Regions from separate parts of the Homo sapiens genome. Here regions 2 and 3 are each linked to region 1. Evidence: fine-mapped expression QTL. A gene starts in region 1. Each other region holds a variant in brackets. All regions are shown on one strand. Distances are from middle to middle.

Region 1 (6,233 bases):
CAGAGCAAGACTCTGTCTCAAAAAAAAAAAAATAATAATAAATAAATAAAAATGTTAAAAATAGAGGCCAGGTGCGGTGGCTCATGCCTGTAATCCCGGCACTTTGGGAGGCCGAGGCAAGCAGATCACTTGAGCTCAGGAGTTTGAGACCAGCCTGGACAACATGATGAGACCCCAGTGCAAAAATACAAAAATTAGCTGGATGTGCTTGTTTGAACCCAGGAGGCAGAGGTTGCAGTGAGCCGAGATCGCACCACTGCACTCCAGCCTGGGTGACAGAGTAAGACTGTCTCAAAAAAATTAAAAATAAGGAGAACGTGTTAGGGGATGCCTGTACCATGGAAAGAGCTCATTGTATTGTATATACCGGACTCGAAGGTTCTGGACACCAGGGTTACCTGGGCAGTGGCCACATTTAGGAAGTAATCGACCAGCTCCTTGGCGTTGTACTCGGGGCTGCGAGGGTCCTCCACCAGCGGCTGATCGACACACAGCACATCCCAGCACAGATTCCTTGGCGGGTTGTAACCATTGGGAAGCACACCTGCAGGTCACACCAAGTTCAAGGGGTGGCCCATCACCCAGACCTTCCCTGGTTTCAAAGCCGGCCATGTCCCACCCAGGATGGGCTTCAGAATTTGTGTCCCAATGCAAAAGGAAATGCAGGGCCTTTGTTCCCAGACTATAGGAATTCCAGGACAGTGACAACAGAGCAGATATCAAGCCCAGGGCCCTTCTGAGTGTGTGGCACCATGGCTGGCCCTGCCCTCACCAAGCCCCCTACCAGTGAAGAGGTCCGCGGTCGGGGGCTTCAGGCTGGTGCTGGCCCGCCACACCTGCTCCATCTCCAGCTTCTGCATCCGTACCCACTTATCTTGATAATCAAGGCGCCCAAAGAAGAAGCCGTCGAAGCCCATCTGGGGATGAGGGAGGAAAAGGCAGTGTGAATTAGTGCCCAGCCCTCTCACCACCAAACTCCCCTCTGCTTGGGAGGGGCAGGTCAGAGCACAGGTTAAAAAGCAGTGCTAGGTCGATGTGGTGGCTCTTGCCTATGATCCCAGCCTTCTGGGAGGCCAAAACAGGAGGATCACTTAAACCCAGGAGTTTTTGAGACCAGCCTGCACAACACGGGCAGACTGTCTACAAAAAATTTAAAAATTAGCCAGGCGTAGTGGTGCGCTCTTGTAGTCTCATCTACTAGGGGGGCTGAGACAGGAGAATCGCTTGAATCCGGGAGATTGAGGCTATAGTGAGTTAGGATTGCACCACTGCACTCCAGCCTGGATGACAGCAAGACCCTGTCTCAAAAAACAAAAACAAAAACACGTAGGGCTGAAACAGAGAGGCCTCCAGCTTATTTCCAAGCTTGGGGAAGTTTCAGAACTCACCACCTTGGGCTAGCAGGGAGAGGGCGGGTCCAACATCAGAACCCAGGTTCACCTCCCCAGCACTGTCAAAGCGCAGAGCAGGCCTGACTCCAGGAATGAGGTTCCCCCTTCCACAGCCTGAGGATGGATGGGGTCTGAGCACAGGTAATGAACCTGTTTTTAAGGCAGCCTAGGCATCCACTTGCCACCCGGTTTAGGGAGGAGCCAGGACCCGAGCTAGTGGGTGGGGCCAGAACACCAAGAGGGGCCTATTAGGGGAGAGGGCGGAGCCAGCCGGAGCTGGGTCAGCCTGGGCTGGGCATAGCCGGCTGAGGCCAGAGCTCAAAAGCCACTGGCTTTACGGCTCACTCAAGGGGCAGGGCTTCAACAGGCCTAGGCCTGGGCCTGGTCCTTGTGAGATTGCAGGGAGAGGGCGGGGTTTGACTGGGCGAGGGAGGAGCCAGAGTGAGTGAAGAAGTGGGCCCAAGAGAGGTCCCGGGTCGCACCTGCGCAAACAGCGAGGCCTGCTCCCGAGAGTGGCCGAAGGGGTCAATGTGCCAGGCCACACGGGGTCGCCCATCATTGCCAAATGTGTCCTCCAGAAAGCGCAGCCCAAGTGTCATCTGGTCCACGATGGCACCGTAGTGGGTGGCTGCCTCATCGTTCATCACCCAGCCACCATTGGCGAACTCCAGGCGCCCTGTGCCAGGACAGGCAAGGTCAGGGTCAGCGGTCAGAGCCAGGAGTGGGAGTAGGGTGGGTGATACTGGGAATGTGAAAGCCTGCCTGTGTACACATTTCTGGCGGAAGGACAAGAGGGGTCGCTCCCAGGCCATAGTTCCCAGATATGGGAAAGAGGCCCCCTGCATGGCAGGCTTCCCAGAGGATGCACAGCAGGTGGGGCTTTGTGGGATGTATAGGAGGTCTCCAAATGGAGAGTCCAGGCAGGCGGAGCGACACGCATGTTATACAGCTTGCACGTGGCATGACAAATCTCAGAAACCAGAGATGCAGAAGCAGAAGCTGGGCTGGGCTTCCTCTTTTCACTTCCTTGGGGTAGGCTCACCCTGGCGCACAAGGTCTCGCACGACTTCCTGTGTGGCATTTGTCTGCTGGTGCCACCAACGGGAGAAGAAGGCAATCTCCACGTAAATGAAGCGACGGGTGGGATCTGCCAGCAAGGCAGAGATGACCGAGTCCAGGATGTACTGCACACCGGCGTGCTGGATGTCATTCTTGACTGTGGATAACAGGGATAAGGCTCTCAGGGAACAGCAGAGCCAAGGGGGTTATTCCTAGACAGAGGAGCCCAAACCCTGGATATTAGGGTAGCACTGGCCCCACCCTAATGTCCAGGACCCAGAGGGATTACAGGGACCATGGGGATCCCAGGGACCAGTCCCCATCCTCTACTCACTTCCATAAAAGTACTGGTCCACGGTTTTGAGCCAGCCCACGTCATCATGTGTGTGAGGCAGCAGGTGCACGTTCAGCATGTTCGGCTGCACTGTGGGGCATGTCTGCACAGGGACCCCAAACACACATACCTTGTCAATAACCCCCGAGGTCGGGGGCTGCAGAGTAAGTCTTGATCTAGAGGTGAGTGACTCAGAGAGGCCTGATCTCGCCTATGTGCAGAGGAGGCCAGGCCCTCCCAGGCAGGACACACACATACATAGTTGTGCTCATAGATACAACTCCACTTTGCACAACCCCACAGGGCAGCTCTCATTCACACTCCGGGAAAATAATAATAGAAGTAGCTGATGTTTGTTCAGCATTTGCCGACAGCAGACGGCCACCGTGGGAGGTGGGGTGATGTTATCCCCAGTTTCCAGATGAAGGCACTGAGGCTTAGAGAGGATAGGTGACTTGCCCAACGTCACACACTCAGGAAGTGTAAGAGCTAGGCTGGAATTTCAGGCAGACTCCAGAGTCCCAGCTCTCAGCCAGCACCTCCCCCCACACATACACTGCTCACCCCCTGCCACCTCCTGCCCCTCCAATCCCACAGTTAAGTGCAGACAAAGTCTAGGCAAGCATCCCGGAGACACGGAGGCAGGTACAATCAGACACAGTCCTATACTCAGATGCGCACAGCCAGACCTCGCAATGACACAAAGCACGCACTCAGACCACACTGTCATATCATCAGCCATTCACTAGACACCCACAGGACAGACCCACCCACACCTCTAGACTGTATTCTGGGTTTCACTCTGCCTCCTGTACGTTTCAGCTCGGAGGCCCCACTCACCTCGTATCCCCCGGCCCGAGCACCGGCAGCCGCCAGCAACAAAAGGAAAAAGCAGAGAGGCGGGAGCGGTGGCCGCAGGGCGCGGGACATGGTCCAGGGGCCTGCTGAGTCCAGGCAGCCGCGAGCGCAGACCCCCGAAGCCCGCGCGTAGGCGCCCATGGCTCAGCAGCTTCCTCCTGGGGTTCCCCGGCCCTGGAAAGGCCGGGCAAACGCCCCGCCCCCAGACCCGGCCGGGCCAATCGGGGTGGGGGGCGGGGCCAGGGCGCGGTCTGGAGGCTCACGGGAGAGAGGCTGTAGCCCTGGGCAATCCCGGGGGTCGTTACAGGAAGGTAGGAAAATGCCACCCTCAGGGCACTGGTTGGGCTAAAGGTGACACTGGCGTCTCACGGGCTATGAAGACGGAATGCCTCTTAATGCCGGAATTCCAAGACGGAATGCCTCTTAATGCCGGTAGGAGCAGAAGTGCTTTTCCTAAGGGGGCCGGGTTTTCCTAGCCGGTGTAGTGTGTCCATGGGAATCCAGGGTGTCCGTCCCATGGACCTTCAGCGCTAGGGTCCTGGAAGGACCTAGCTTGCCTAAGAGGAGGATCTGATGAAGAGTCCTATACTGTGGGGATTGGGACGTTGGGTAAATACCCCTGGAGTACCAGGGATGGGATCCAGCCTGGTTGAGAAGGATCCCTGGGTGTTCCGGAGAGAAAAGAGGGTCTGACAAGTGGGGAAGGACCCCGAGTCTTTCATGCCTTTCCCAATTCCTACCAGTTCATTCTCTGATAAGAAAACAAAGCCCAGGGCAGGCGCAGTGGCTCAAGCCTGCAATCCCAGCACTTTGGGAGGGCCAGGCTGGTGAATCACTTGGGCCTGGGAGTTTGAGACCAGCCTGGGCAACATGGGTTGTTTTGTAGAGACGGGTTTGAAAACACAAAATTTGTAATTTTACACAAAATGTAAAAATACAAAAATTAGCTGGGCATGGTGGCACATGCCTGTAATCCCAGCTACTTGGGAGACTGAGGCAGGAGAATCACTTGAACCTGGGAGGCGGAGGTTGCAGTGAGCCGAGATCAAGATCATGCCATTGCCCTCCAGCCTGGGCAACAAGAGCAAAACTCTGTCTCAAAAAAAACAAGAATTAACTGGGCATGGTAGCACGCATTTGTGGTCCCAGTTACGTGGCAGGCTGAGGTGGGAGGATTGCTTGAGCCCAGGAGTTTGAGGCTGCAGTGAACATAGATTGTGCCACTGCACTCAGCCTGCATGACAGATCAAGACCATTTTCTTTCTTAAAAAGGAAAAAAAAAAAAGGAAACCAAAGCCTAGATTATCTAGGTCAGCAGGGCCATCTGGTGAGTTGCCAGAGGGCAGAAGTCACTGTCTTGTCCCTAGCACCTGACTTAAGACACAAGGTTTATGAAGTAAGCAAATGAACAGCCAGAAGCCTCCAGACTGGGGCCCCACACCAGGCCTATGGGGCTAGAGCCCTTCCCGCCAGGTAGGAGGAACACCCCACTGAACAGAAGAGGCTGACAGCCAGAGTGAAAAACTTTATTAACAACAGGTTTCAACGAGAAAGCAAATGAATACCCCTAGAAACATGGACAGCATCTCCCCCAGCAGCAGGCAGGGGAAGGGAGGCAGGAGGGGTAAGCCTAGGGTGTTCCCTAGGAAAGGGCCAGGTTCCCTCTATCCAGCTGGGGGCACCGAGACGGCCTCATTCAGGGAAGTCCAGGATGGCAGCTGAAGGCAGCAGGTTTAGCAGCCAAAGCCCAGGCCTAGTGGATAGACAGGGTCCAAAATGTGACCCTTCTAGGCTGGTATCACCATGGGGGCGTCATGGGCTGAGGATTCTGCAGATAGGACATCACCACGGCAGAGATGGACAGCCTGAGACAGGAGAGAGGTGTCAGTCTAGGATGGCCAGGCTGGGGTCCCCCCACCCCTTACTCAAGAGTCACTTGTTCTGTAGGGCAAGTCTCACATGAAGCTACTCATCATTTGCTTCGTGTCCTCCGAGCTCCGAGAGTTGGCAAAGCTGATGAAGGAGCAGTAGACAGCGACCCAAGCACACCACTTCAGCTAGGGAAAGGTAAGTGGGTGGGCAGGTTAGTGAAAGGCACAACAATGAGTCCCCGAAGCCACCTTTCCAGACACCAGATCATGCCCACTGATTCCATCTGATGCAGCTGGGACCTTGCCCCACCCGGAATTCCTCAGTCCCACCTGCTCATGGCATACTCTAGATACGTGGTTTCTAGTCCTACTGTCTGGCCTGCGTCTCTCAGGACCAAGAGAGACTCTGACATCCCACATGCTTAAGACCCTGCCCTTTTTCCACAACTCCTCTCCAAGTTGCTTCAAAGCCTGGCCCCACTCGCAGACCAATCTGCCACATCCCCAACCTGACTCGAATCCTTGACTTCACCAAAGACTGGGGCTTTCTCGGCCCAGCGTCATCGCAGCCCCACTCCCGGCCGATCTCAGGTCCCGCCCCATCAGCAATGACAAGACACCCCGCTTCATTCCAAACCCGCCCCCGGGCCTCGTTCTCAGGTCCAACTACACCCATAGAAGCTCAACCCCGCCCACCTTAAGCATGAGGCCGCACATGCT
Region 2 (6,509 bases), 27 kb before region 1:
AAAGAAAAGACAGAGAGAGAAAGAAAAGAAAAAGAGAGAAAGAAAGAAAAAGAAAGGAAAGAGAAAGAAAGCAAAAGAAAGAAAAGCAGAGATATGAGAGAAGGAAGGAAGGAAGGGAAGGAGAAAAAAGGAAAAAAAAAAAGAACTGAGACCCCATCTCTACAAAAGTAAAAAATTAGCTGGGTGTGGTGGGGCACACCTGTGATTCCAGCTACTCCAGAGGCTGAGGTGGGAGGATGGCTTGAGCCCAAGAGTTCGAGCCTGCAGTGAGCCATGATCATGCCACTGCACTCAGACCTGGGTGACACAGTTCATGTCAGCCACCTTCCAAAACAGGCAAGAATGCTATGTGTGTCATAGCCTATAATTTGTACCACATTAAGGTTGCTTTGATCTAGGGCAGAACTTATGAGTCCTTTTTTTTTTTTTTTTTTTTTTTGAGAAGGAGTCTTGCTCTGCCACCCAGGCTGGAGTGCAGTGGCGCGATATTGGCTCACTGCAAGCTCCGCCTCCTGGGTTCACGCCATTCTCCCACCTCAGCCTCCTGAGTAGCTGGGACTATAGGCACCCGCCACCATGCCTGGCTAATTTTGTTTTTATATTTTTAGTAGAGATGGGGTTTCACCGTGTTAGTCAGGATGGTCCCGATCTCCTGACCTCGTGATCCGCCCGCCTCGGCCTCCCAAAGTGCTGAGATTACAGGCGTGAGCCACTGCACCCGGCCAAAGCACCATTCTCTAAAATCCCCACCAAGCCTTTGTCTCCTTGCAGTTAGCTCCTCTCTGGGTGTGCTGCCTGGTGGAACCCTGTAATGTATTTTCTTTCTTTCTTTCCTTTTTTTTTTTTTTTTTTTTTTTTTGAGACGGAGTCTCACTCTGTCGCCCAGGCTGAAGTGCAGTGGTGCGATACCGGCTCACTGCAACCTCCGCCCCCCGGGTTCAAGCGATTCTCCTGCCTCAGCCTCCCGAGTGGCTGGGATTACAGGCGCCCGCCACCGCGCCCGGCTAATTTTTATATTTTTAGTAGAGACGGGATTTCACCATGTTGGCCAGGCTGGTCTCAAATTCCTGACCTCAGGTGATCCACCTGCCTCAGCCTCCCAAAGTGCTGGGATTACAGACGTGAGCCACCGCGCCCGGCCAACCTTGTCTCTTAAAAGTAAAAACAAAATGAGAGATAAGAAGAAATATTTTTGGAAGGCGCACAGGGGAATAAAGCCACCAGGGCATTTTAATCATAAACTCCTTGTCCCATCAAGGCCATCCCTACCCTTTGCCCTCCCCTCCCCAAGACCTACCCTGCCCCGCCCCATCCTGGCCCCCTCCAGCCTTCATCCCCCTTTTTCCCCTCTTTCCCCACTTTGTCTCCTCTTCCCCACTTTATCACCTCTTGCCCCTGTGCGGCCCCGCCGAACTGGAAACGTTTCCAGCAGGTGATTCAGATGCGCCTGTGCAGGACTGTGACCAGGTGCAAGTCGCCCTCCCCTGACCTCCCTGTTTAGCCTGAATGATCCTTCCCAAGTGTGTTGCTCCATTCTCGCGCTGCTATAAAGAACTACCTGAGCTGGGCGCGATGGCTCACGCCTGTAATCACAGCACTTTGGGAGGCTGAGGCGGGTGGATCACCTGAGGTCAGGAGTTTGAGACCAGCCTGACTAACATGGTGAAACCCCATCTCTACTACTAATAATAAAAAAATTAGCCGGGCGTCATGGCTCACGTCTGTAATTCCAGCTACTCAGGAGGCTCAAGCAGGAGAATCCCTTGAACCCGGGAGGCAGAGGTTGCAGTGAGCGGGGATCACGTCATTGCACTCCAGCCTGGGCAACAAGAGTGAAACTCCGTCTCAAAAAAAAGAAAAAAGAAAAAAACTACCTGAGGCTGGGTAATTCACGAATAAAAGAGGTTTAATTGACTCACAGTTCTGCAGGCTGTACAGGAAGCAAGGCTGGGAGGCCTCAGGAAACTTATCAAGGCGGAAGGCTACTGGGGATCGAGTCAGTCTTCACTTGAAGCAGGAGGGATCAGGAGAGAGCACGAAGTGGGAAGTGCCGCACATCTTTAAACCATCAGATCTCCTGAGAACTATCACGAGAACAGCAAGGGGAAAGCCGCCCCCATGATCTAATCACCTCCCAGCAGGTCCCTCTCCTGGTATTAGAAATTAAAATTGAACATGAGATTTGGTTGGGGACACACAGCCAAACCATATCACCAAGGTTTTCTGTAAGTGTCTGATGAATACGCACAGTGGGAACTGCAGCTGAGCTTTAGGTGGCATCCTAAAAGCCTCTTTGTCAGCCTGAGCCCGTGTCCTCTTAAGAGGGAGAGTTGGGGCTGGGTGCGGTGGCTCACGCCTGTAATCCCAGCACTTTGAGAGACCGAGGCGGGTGGATCATGAGGTCAGGAGTTCCAGAGCAGCTGGCCAACATGATGAAACCCCGTCCGTACTAAAAATACAAAAATTAGCCGGGCGTGGTGGCGGGCGCCTGTAATCCCAGCTACTTGGGAGGCTGAGGCAGGAGAATCGCTTGAACCCAGGAGGCAGAGGTTGCAGTGAGCCGAGATTACACCACCGCACTCCAGCCTGGGCAACAGAGCGAGACTCTCTCAAAAAAAAAAAACAAAAAAAAAAAACGGGGTGGGCGACTTGGAAAAGATTTCAGGACTCACTCTCAGCGACGGTGCCCCACGTGAGTTGGAGGCCAGGAGCAAGGTGCCTTCCTGGGCCTCCCTGGCTGCGATCCTGTCCTCAGGAGGGCGACCCCAGTCACGTGCGACCGCTCAAGGCGGTCCTCAGAAGCGGAGGGGACCTCCGCGGGCCAGTAGGCCTTCAGAATTCTTAGAAATCACTCACCCCCGTCCTGCAGTGACAATCTCAGGAGAGCCTGTCTACAGACTGGCGCCTGTAGAGAAGATCCTGCCATTGCCCCTGGCTTCCAGGAACTGAACTGGATTCTGAGCATCATGGCAGAATCTTATCCCACCTATGCAGCAGGCTAGCTCCAGGGAGAAAATATAAACGTCAGGCCGGGCGTGGTGGCTCACGCCTGTAATCCTAGCACTTTGAGAGGCCGAGGCAGGCGTATCACGAGGTCAGGAGATCGAGACCTTCCTGGCTAACACAGTGAAACCCCATCTCTATTAAAAATACAAAAAATTATTCAGGCGTGGTGGCGGGCGCCTGTAGTCCCAGCTACTCGGGAGGCTGAGGCAGAAGAATGACGTGAACCCGGGAGGCGGAGCTTGCAGGGAGCCAAGATGGCGCCACTGCACTCCAGCCTGGGCGACAGAGCCAGACTCCGTCTCAAAAAAAAAAAAAAAAAAGAAAAGAAAATATAAACGCCAACAAACAGGTAATTCCCAATCACCGGCAAGACCCCGCCGGATTGGACCCCGACCCTCAGCAGAGGCCACCTTGTCCGGGTCTCACTCTAACCTGTACCGCGGCCCCAAGATATCAGAGGCTGCCTTGGTGGACCCGGGGCACTTTCCACAGAACTCCCTGAATGGCCAAGGCTGGCCCTGGCCTCAATAGGCCAACTCAGCAAACGTGGAGAAGGCAGGGAACGGTGGGTAAGGGAAGTCATCCCAACATTTTGGGAGTCCGAGGCGTTATATGGCTTGAACCCAGGAGTTCAAGATCAGCCTGGGCAATATAGCAAGACCCCATCCTTTTTTGAGACTGAGTCTTGCTCTGTCGTCCAGGCGGGAGTGCAGTGGTGCAATCTCAGCTTACTGCAACCTCTACCTCCCAGGTTTGAGCGATTCTCCTGCCTCAACCTCCTAAGTAGCTGGAATTACAGTTGCCCGCCACCACGCTCGGCTAATTTGTTTTTTGTTTTTTGTTTTTTGCTTTTGAGACGGAGTCTTGCTCTGTCGCCCAGGCTGGAGTGCCGTGGCGCAATCTCGGCTCACTGCAAGCTCCCCTTCCGGGGTTCATGCCATTCTCCTGCCTCAGCCTCCCGAGTAGCTGGGACTACAGGCACCCGCCACCACACCCGGCTGTTTTTTTGTATTTATAGTAGAGACGGGGTTTCACCATGTTAGACAGGATGGTCTCGATATCCTGACCTCGTGATCCGCCCGCTTCAGCCTCCCAAAGTGCTGGGATTACAGGCGTGAGCCACCGGGCCCAGC[CT/C]TTTTTTTTTTATTTTTAGTAGAGACAGGTTTCACCATGTTGGCCAGGCTGGTCTGGAACTCGTGACCTCAAGAGATCCACCCACCTCGGCCTCCCAAAGTGTTGGGATTACAGGAGTGAGCCACCGCAACTGGCTACCATTTCTAATAAAAGCAAACTTTTGTTCAAGTGTATTCATCAAAAAGGCCCCTCGCATGTGACCACAGCCAAGCCAGGAAGCCTTCTTCAGGTATCCCTAGCCAGCCTGCAGGAGGTCTTGGAAACTTGTTCAACGGATAAATATAACTGGGCCCACAAAGAATCACAGGAATACTTAATCCCTCCAGCCTCCAGGGCCAGCCTGGCCCCAGCTGTGTAGGGGGGCTTAGAAGTGTCTTCAGGACTCATCTAACTACCAGGCCCAATCTGGCGGTGGGCAGAACCTGGGGCCCTTCCCACAGCAGTCCGAGGACCTTCCTGACTGTGATCCTGGCCCCAGCAGGGGGACCTAGAAAACGCCAATGAAGCTGTGGGCAAGCAGGCACCAGGTGGGAAAGCGGCCAAGCTCAGGGCACCCTACTCCGCTCACCTGCGACGGCAGCAGCCAGTCCCCACGGGCGGAGGGGACCTCATGCGACATTCAGCCCGCGAGATTCTCAGAGACTGCTCGCCCGCAACACGCAGTAACGATCTCAGGAGAGCCCATGATGGGGCGGCGCGTGTCGTAGCCGAGAAGACTCTGTCATCGCCGGCGACCTCCTGGAACTCTCTCTTGCGGTTTGCAGCCAGATCACTTCCCATACACGCGGCAGCCAAGCTCAGGGGATGGCATCAGACTGACCCTAGGTGGCGCTCGAACACCCGCCGGACCTCACCAGACAGGCACTTTCCCCAGTCTACACCGCCTGGTTCGGGTCCCACATGAACCTGTAATACACTCGGCCCAAAGCGGTCAGAGGATGGCCTGGTGGGCCCGGGGCACCCTCCACGGAACTCCCTGAATGGCCAGGGCTGATCCCAGCCTCCATAGGCAGACAGAAAATGTGAATGAAGCCCTGCTGGATGCCTCATGCCTACCACCTCAACACTTTGGGAGGCCGAGGCGGGAGGAGAGATGTGCCCTGGAGATGATGCAGTGCGCTATGATCGCATCATTGCACAGCAGCCTGGGTGACAGCGAGACTCGGTCGCGGGAAAAATAAAACAAAAAACAAAAACAAACCAAAAAAAATGAAAGAGAGAGGGAGAGGGAGGGTGGAAGGAGGGAGGAAGGAAGGGAGAGAGGGAGGGAGGGAAGGAGGGAAAAAGAAAGAGAAAAGGAAAAAGAGGCCGGGCGCGGCGGCTCACGCCTGTAATCCCAGCACTTTGGGAGGCCGAGGCGGGCAGCTCACCTGAAATTGGGAGTTCGAGACCAGCCTGACCAACATGGAGAAAACCCTTCTCTACTAAAAATACAAAAATTAGCTGGGTGTGGTGGCGCATGCCTGTAATCCCAGCTACTAGGGAGGCTCAGGTAGGAGAATCGTTTGAACCCGGGAAGAGCAGGTTGCAGTGAGCCAAGATCCCGCCATTGCACTCCAGCCTGGGCAACAAGAGTAAAACTCTGTCTCAAAACAAAACACCAAAAAAAAAAATAAATAAAAAATAACCCACAAGAGTGAAAGTCTGTCTCAAAAAAAAGGAAAGAAAATGAAGAAGAACATTCAAGATGGAAGGAAGGGAGGGAAGGGAAAGAAAGAAAGGAGGGAGGGAGTGAGGGAGGGAAAGAAAAAGAAAGAGAAAAGAAAAAAAAGGAACATTTGGGAAGGCCCACAGGGGAATGAAGCCACAACAATATCCTACTCAGAACCTCCTTCTCCCATCAAAACCATCCCTCTACCTCCCCTTCCCCCTGCTTTCCCCGCCACTGCTTCTGCGGCTCCCAGTGATCCCCCTCCTTTTACCCTCCCCGTCCCTCTCTTCATGCCCCTATTCCTATCTCCTATCACTCAGAATTGGCAACGTTTTCAGCAGGTGCTTCAGACGCGTCTGCATAGGACTGTGACCAAGTCCAAGTCGCCCACCCTTAGCCCTCCCTGTTTGGCCCCAGTCATCCCTCCAGACGTTTTCTGAAGGTGTCCGATGAATGGTCGCCATGGAAACTGCAGCTGGGGTCTGGGTGCCCTCCTTCATCCTCCCTGTATGCCTGGGCGAGTGTCCCTTCTTAAAAGGGGCCTTGGGAAAAATTTCAGGACGCACTTTCTGCGACGGTACCTTATGTGAGTCGGTGGGCAGGAGCTGTGTGCCCTCTGGGGTCCCTGGCTGCGATCCTGGCCCCAGGAAGGGGACCTAGAAAACTTTTCCAGTAGGCTGGGCATGGGCTCATGACTGTAATCCTAGCAGTTTGGGAG
Region 3 (7,467 bases), 47 kb before region 1:
CTTCACTGAGCAATGTACTTTTAAGGTCCTTCTGTGTCTTCATGGCTTGATACCTGATTTCTCTTATCGTTGAACAATATTTCATCATAAGATTGTACCGGCCGGGCACGATGGCTCATGCCTGTAATCCCAGCTCTTTGGGAGGCCGAGGCGGGCGGATCACAAGGTCAGGAGTTTGAGACCAGCCTGGCCAACATGACAAAACCCCGTCTCTACTAAAAATACAAAAATTAGCTGGGTGTGGTGGCGCACACCTGTAATCTCAGCTACCTGGGAGGCTGAGGCAGGAGAATTGCTTGAACCTGGAAGGTGGAGGTTGCAGTGAGCCGAGATAGTGCCATTGCACTCCAGCCTGGGCAACAAGAGCAAGACTCCGTCTCAAAAAAAAAAAAAAAAAAAAGATTGTACCACAGATTGTTTATCCATAAACCTGTTGCATGATGTCTTGGTTAAGTCTTAAATTTGGCAGTTATGAAGAAACCTCCTGTAAATATTCATGGGCAGGTTTTTGTATGAACAGTATTTTTCAACTCATGTGAGTAAATAGCAAGGAATGTGATTGCATGGTCCACTGGTAAGAGGACGTTTTGTTTTGTTAGAAACTGCCTATCTTCCAAAGTAGACATACCATTTTCCATTTCCATTGGCAAGGAATGAGAATTCTTGTTGTCTACATCTTTGCTATCCATTGCTGTTCTCAGCATTTTGAACTTTGTACGTTCTAATAAGTGTAAAGTGATATCTCTTCAGTTTTATTTGCAGCTCCTTAGTGACATATAATTGAGCATCTCTTCATATGTGTATTTGCCATCTGTATATCTTTCATTGGTGAGGGGTGTGTTCAGGTCTTTTGCTCATTTTTCACTGGTTCATTTGTCTTATTTTTGTTGAGATTTAAGAGTTCGAATTGGAGGCAGGCATGGTGGTACACGCTTGTCATCCCAGCTACTCCAGAGGCTAAAGTGGGAGGATTGCCTGCACCCAGGATTATAAGCCCAGCATGGGCAACATAATGGATCCTATCTCAAAAAAACAAAAAGGACGCTAGGCATGGTAGCTCATGTGGGGCCACCCAGGCTGCTGGGGAGCAGAGCTGAGAAGTGGTGCTGGGGCTGGAGCTGCCAAGGGATCGGAGAAAAAAAATTAGCCCAATGTGGGTGGCACACCCCTGTAGTCCCAGCTATTTGGGAGGCTGAGGCATGAGAATCGCTTGAGCCTAGGAGGCAGAGGTTGCAGTGAGCCGAGATTGCACCACTGCACTCCACCCTGGGCAACAGAGCAAGACTGTCTCAAAAAAAAAGAAAAACAAAAAGAATTCTTTGGATATTTTAGATACTAGTCCTTAATCAGATAAGTGCTTTTGTGAAGATTTGCAAAAATCTGTCTGTGCCTTTTATTTTTATTCTTTTAACACTTTCTTTCACAGAGTAGGAGTTTTTCATTTTAATGAAGTGAAACTTATTTTTTCCTTTCATAGATTGTGCTTTTAGTGGTTTATCTAAAAATTCATCACCAAAGCCAAGTGGATAGTTTTGCATGTTACATTTACATCTATGATCGATTTGGGCTTAATTTTTGTGAAAGGTGTAAGATCCATGTATAAATTTTTTGTGGGTGTATGAGAGTTTAATAGTATAAATTTCACTTAGGTACTATTTTTGTTGCATTCCACAAATTTTGATAAGTTCTATTTTCATTTAATTCACATTTAATTTTTCTTTTTTCTTCTTTTTTTTTTTTTTTTGAGACGGAGTCTTGCTGTGTCACTCAGGCTGGAGTGCAGTGGTGCAGTCTTGGCTCACTGCATCCTCCGCCTCCCGGGTTCAAGCGATTCTCCTGCCTCAACCTCTCAAGTAGCTGGGATTACAGGCACGTGCCACCATGCCTGTCTAATTTTTTTATTTTTAGTAGAGATGGGGTTTCACCATGTTGGCCAGGCTGGTCTCGAACTCCTGACCTCGTGATCCGCCCACCTTGGCCCCCCAGAGTGCTGGGATTACAGGCATGAGTCACTGCGCCCGGCCCAAATTTAATTTTTCTTGAGATTTTTTTGATTCATGTTTAGAACTGTGTTGGGTTTTATTTCCAAATATTTGATGGTTTTCTAACTATTCTTCTGTTACTGATTTCTAGATTAATACCATGGTGGTCTGAGAGCATATTTTATATAATGTATATTCTTTGAAAATTGTTAAGGTGTGTTTTTGTCCACAACATGGTTTATCTTGGTGAATGTTCCACATGAACTTGAGAAGAATGTGTGTTGTTCTGTTGGATGAAGCATTCATGGATTTTAATTAAACCCAGTTGTTGCCTTTCAACTAAACTTTGTCCTTTCTGATTTTCTACCTGCTGGAACTCTTTTTTTTTTTTTTTTTTTTTTTTGGAGACAGGGTATTACCCTGTCACCAGGCTGGAATGCAGTGGCATGATCTCAGCCTACTACAACCACCACCTCAGCCTTCTGAGTAGCTGGAACTACAGGTGCGTGCCACATACAGGGCTAAATTTTGCTTTTTTTTTTTTTTTTTTTTTGAGACAGAGTTTCGTCCTTGTCGCCCAGGCTGGAGTGCAGAGGCAAGAACTCAGCTCACTGCAACCTCCATCCACTGGGTTCAAGCGATTCTCCTGCCTCAGCTTCACAGGTAGCTGGGATTACAGGTGCACACCATCATGCCCGGCTAATTTTTGTATTTTTAGTAGAGATGGAGTTTCACCATGTTGGCTAGGCTGGTCTCCAACTCCTGACATCAGGTGATCCACCCACCTTGGCTTTGCAAGGTGCTGGGATTACAGGCGTGAGCCACCACGTCCACCAACCATCTATTCTTTTTCACAAGTATTGTATTTTTAAATTTTTGCCTCCTTTGAACATTTAATGAGTATTAATGGAATTACACTTAAAGGGTTTTTTGGAGCCTAGGCAACATAGTGAGACCCATCTTTACAAAAAATGAAAAAATTAGCCAGGCATGGTGATGCACACCTGTAGTCCCAGCTACTCAGGAGTCTGAGGCGGGAAGATTGCTTGAGCCCGGGAAGTCGAGGCTGCTGTGAGCCGTGACTGCACCACTGTACTCTAGCCTGGGCAACAATGAGACCCCGTCTCAAAAATAAAATAAAGGCCGAGTGTGGTGGCTCGCGCCTGAGGCTAGGAGTTCAAGACCAGCCTGGCCAACATGGTGAAACCCTGTCTCTACTAAAATACAAAAAATTAGCTGGGTATGGTGGTGCGTGCCTGTAATCCCAGCTACTCAGGAGGCTGAGACAGGAGAATTGCTTGAACCCGGGAGGCGGAGGCTGCAGTGAGCCGAGATCATGCCACTGCACTCCACCCTGGGGAACAAGAGCAAAACTCCACCTCAAAATAAATAAATAAATAATTTTGTGGTGATTTGTTTACCTCTC[AGTGTGTGTGTGTGT/A]GTGTGTGTGTGTGTGTGTGTGTGTGTGTATTTATTTATTTTTTTGAGATGGAGTCTCACTCTGTTGCCAGGCTGGAGTGCAGTGGTGTGATCTCAGCTCACTGCAACCTCCGCCTCCTGGGTTCAAGCGATTCTCCTGCTTCAGCCTCCCGAGTAGCTGGGACTACAGGCATGAGCCACCATGCCCAGCTAATTTTTGTATTTTTAGTAGCGACGGAGTTTCACCATGTTGGTCAGGATGGTCTCAGTCTCGACCTCGTGATCCACCCACCTAGGCCTCCCAAAGTGCTAGGGATTACAGGCGTGAGCCACCACGCCTGGCCACCTCTCAGTATATTTCTCATATGCTAGTATCTGAAGCTGCAGGCTATCCGTTCCAATGGTTGTGGTGTTTAGACTTTTTCACGGTTTTGTTTTTGTTTGCTTTGTGGAAAATAATGCTCCTACTATTTTTGTTTCAGTCTGCAAGTGCAAACGCACAATAAATTCTCTGGTAGTTGGAAAAAAATTACTGGATCTTGGTCAAGTTTAAATTTACAAACTTAAAAAAAGTGGTGGAGTGTATCAGTTGATCCTCCGTTTGTACATGATTGTTCTCTGTAGTCATCAACACTAATGTTATCTTTTTTTTTTTTTTTTTTTTTTTGAGACGGAGTCTCGATTTGTCTCCCAGGCTGGAGTGCAGTGGCGCGATCTGGGCTCACTGCAAGCTCCGCCTCCCGTGTTCACGCCATTCTCCTGCCTCAGCCTCTCGACTAGCTGGGACTACAGGCGCCCGCCACTTCTCCTGGCTAATTTTTTGTATTTTTAGTAGAGACGGGGTTTCACTGTGTTAGCCAGGATGCTCTCGATCTCCTGACCTCATGATCTACCTGCCTCGGCCTCCCCAAGTGCTGGGATTACAGGCGTGAGCCACCGCGCCCGGCCACTAATGTTATCTTAATCGACTAGTTTTGTCTTCCTACTCAGTTTGAAGTGGGAACTATTTGACATTTATATCCTCATTAGCAAGGAGATGAACCTTTTTTTTCTGTTTTTTTTTCTTTTTATTATTTAGTAAAAGGCTATATATGAAATCTTTATTTATTTATTTATTTTTATTTTATTTATTTATTTTTTTGAGACGGAGTCTCGCTCTGTCGCCCAGGTTGGAGTGCAGTGGCGCGATCTCGGCTCACTGCAAGCTCCGCCTCCCGGGTTCCCGCCATTCTCCTGCCTCAGCCTCCCGAGTAGCTGGGACTACAGGCGCCCGCCACGGCACCCAGCTAATTTTTTGTATTTTTAGTAGAGCCAGGATGGTCTCGATCTTCTGACCTCGTGATCCACCTGCCTTGGCCTCCCAAAGTGCTGGGATTACAGGTGTGAGCCACCGCACCTGGCCTGTCTTTATTTATTTTTGGCTGGAGTGCAGTGGTATAGTTATGGCTCACTGCAGCCTTGACTTTGCAGGCTCAAGCAATCCTCCCACCTCAGCCTCCCAAGTAGCTGAGACCACAGGCGTGCACCACCACGCCTGGCCAAGTTTTGTATATTTTATAGAGACAGGGTTTCACCATGTTGCCCAGGCTGGTCTCGAACTCCTGGGCTCAAACGATCTGCCCACCTCAGCCTCCCAAAGTGCTGGGATTATAGGCATGAGCCATCACGCCTGGCCAAAATGTTTATTTTCTATTAAATGTAAATGTAAATAAACCTTACAGAGAGCACCCAGGCATGCAGATGGACTTGTCACGAGGGAGAGCTCCCTGGAGCCAAATTTCTTCCTGCTCAGACCATAGTCCTAATTACTTAAGAAAACCCCTTCTAACTGTGTGGATCTTTTAACGTATGGTGCACATGAGTGCATGGAAATGAGAGAACCTGGGACAACAGCCCCTAGAGTGTCTGTCTGGGATCACTTCCTCCTGAAACTGGAGAAAGGGGATTTATGTTCTTTTTTTTTTTTTTTTTTTTTTTTGAGATAGAGTCTCGCTCTGTTGCCCAGGCTGGACTGCAGTGGTGCGATCTTGGCTCACTGCAACCTCTGCCTCCCGGGTTCAAGCGATTCTCCTGCCTCTGCCTCCCGAGTAGCTGAGATTACATGCATGCACCACCATGCCCAACTAATTTTTGTATTTTTAGTAGAGGCAGGGTTTCTCCATGTTGGCCAGGGTGGTCTCGAACTCCTGACCTGAGGTGATCCACCTGCCTCGGCCTCCCACAGTGCTGGGATTACAGGCATGAGCCATCCTGACCCAGATTTTATGTTCTTTTGGAGGTATGAAATTACCTGTTAATTTTATAATCATGGGCAAATTCACCATCAGACCATTGTGGACATCAGTGAAGTCCCCTGAAAATTGATACTGTCAATCTATTCTTCAAGGTCAGCAAAGCCCAGATGACATGATTATGGATCTTCCAGAAAGTGCTCTTCTGACATTTTATCTCAATGTGTATATGTATTTGTGCTAAAAATTGGTTGGAAGCAGTTCTGAGGCTCATGGGTATAACGATTTTGTGAAAGTCTAAGTTGTGAGGGCCCCTTCCTTGTGCCTGAGCTGTCTTCCCAGTAACTTCCTAGTCTCACGAAATGGGACAGAAAGTAAAAGGAAAAACTGGGTCTATGATAGATATTACACACACAGCCGGGCGTGGTCGCTCATGCCTGTAATGCCAACACATAGGGATATATATATATCGGAAACAAGTTGAAATTAATACGTCTCTAAAAGAGTATTTCCATTCAGTCAGCAGAATCTGAGTGCTTCTGATGGCCTCAAATACTTCAGGACGATATAGGCAGCTAGACCTTCTTAAAAGTTGGATTTCCACAAGCCTCCTGGCCTCTCATGTATAACAAAAGGGGATAGAAGATTCTCAATGTGTATTTACTTATTAAAACCTCCACCTCGGTGGGGGGTCAGCCCCCCTGCCCGGCCAGCCGCCCCGTCCGGGAGGGAGGTGGGGGGGGTCAGCCCCCCCGCCCGGCCAGCCGCCCCGTCCGGGAGGTGAGGGGCGCCTCTGCCCGGCCACCACCCCGTCTGGGAGGTGTGCCTAACAGCTCATTGAGAACGGGCCAGGATGACAATGGCGGCTTTGTGGAATAGAAAGGCGGGAAAAGTGGGGAAAAGATTGAGAAATCGGATGGTTGCCGTGTCTGTGTAGAAAGTAGACATGGGAGACTTTTCATTTTGTTCTGCACTAAGAAAAATTCCTCTGCCTTGGGATCCTGTTGATCTGTGACCTTACCCCCAACCCTGTGCTCTCTGAAACATGTGCTGTGTCCACTCAGAGTTAAATGGATTAAGGGCGGTGCAAGATGTGCTTTGTTAAACAGATGCTTGAAGGCAGCATGCTCGTTAAGAGTCATCACCACTCCCTAATCTCAAGTAATCAGGGACACAAACACTGCGGAAGGCCGCAGGGTCCTCTGCCTAGGAAAACCAGAGACCTTTGTTCACTTGTTTATCTGCTGACCTTCCCTCCACTATTGTCCCATGACCCTGTCAAATCCCCCTCTGTGAGAAACACCCAAGAATTATCAATAAAAAAATAAATTAAAAAAAATAATAAATAAAAAAAATAATAAAAAAAAGACTGTCTCAAACAAAAAAAAAAAAAAAAAAAAACCTCCACCTCATTTAATCCCATATCTTAAGGAATGCTGAATGATTTGGGTAATAAGAAATTAGGCTGTGGGCTGGGTATGGTTATTCATACCTGTTATCACAACACTTTGGGAGGCCGGGGCAGGAGGATCACTTGGGGCCGAGAGTTAAAGGTCAACCTGGACAATATAACAAAACCCCAGCCGGAGGCAGTGGCTCACGCCTGTAATCCCAGCACTTTGGGTGGCCGAGGAGGGTGGATCACGAGGTCGGGAGTTCAAGACCAGCCTAGCCAAGATGGTGAAACCCCATCTCTACTAAAAATACAAAAAATTAGCTGGGCGTGGTGGCACGCGCCTATAATCCCAGCTACTTCGGAGGCTGAGGCAGAGAATTGCTTAAACCTGGAGGGGCGGAGGTTGCAGTGAGCCGAGATCGCACCACTGCACTCCTGC

What was found. PIP is the estimated chance that this variant, and not a neighbour inherited with it, causes the effect. A credible set is the group of variants that fine-mapping cannot tell apart.
Region 2: its variant is the best candidate, but not a certain one, in a credible set for the expression of MAN2B1 in whole blood (INTERVAL, PIP 0.87).
Region 3: its variant is the best candidate, but not a certain one, in a credible set for the expression of MAN2B1 in monocytes (BLUEPRINT, PIP 0.65).

What each region holds. Positions count from the first base shown.
Region 1 is chr19:12,662,919-12,669,151 of GRCh38, forward strand. It overlaps MAN2B1 (mannosidase alpha class 2B member 1), which reads right to left and starts at 3,824. Exons shown (of 24, transcript NM_000528.4): 1 at 3,625-3,824; 2 at 2,785-2,887; 3 at 2,434-2,607; 4 at 1,874-2,067; 5 at 785-917; 6 at 399-544. The coding sequence starts at 3,783. WDR83 (WD repeat domain 83) reads left to right here and starts at 3,889. Exons shown (of 11, transcript NM_001099737.3): 1 at 3,889-4,074; 2 at 5,590-5,709. WDR83OS (WD repeat domain 83 opposite strand) reads right to left here. Exons shown (of 4, transcript NM_016145.4): 2 at 6,210-6,233; 3 at 5,602-5,699; 4 at 5,155-5,507. The coding sequence ends at 5,441. RefSeq lists enhancers at 1,494-2,442, 2,267-2,316, 2,443-3,390, 2,457-2,506, 3,047-3,096 and 2 more and a silencer at 3,687-3,966.
Region 2 is chr19:12,635,357-12,641,865 of GRCh38, forward strand. It overlaps LOC105372279 (a long non-coding RNA gene), which reads right to left. Exons shown (of 4, transcript XR_007067142.1): 2 at 4,709-5,046; 3 at 1,920-2,084. Among named protein-coding and RNA genes, the nearest start is that of ZNF791, 28 kb to the left of the region's middle. RefSeq lists enhancers at 4,650-4,719, 4,673-5,193, 4,750-4,869. The variant CT/C (reference allele first, on the strand shown) is at 4,140.
Region 3 is chr19:12,615,400-12,622,866 of GRCh38, forward strand. The region is part of intron 1 of ZNF791 (zinc finger protein 791); the gene reads left to right. Among named protein-coding and RNA genes, the nearest start is that of ZNF791, 8.2 kb to the left of the region's middle. The variant AGTGTGTGTGTGTGT/A (reference allele first, on the strand shown) is at 3,409.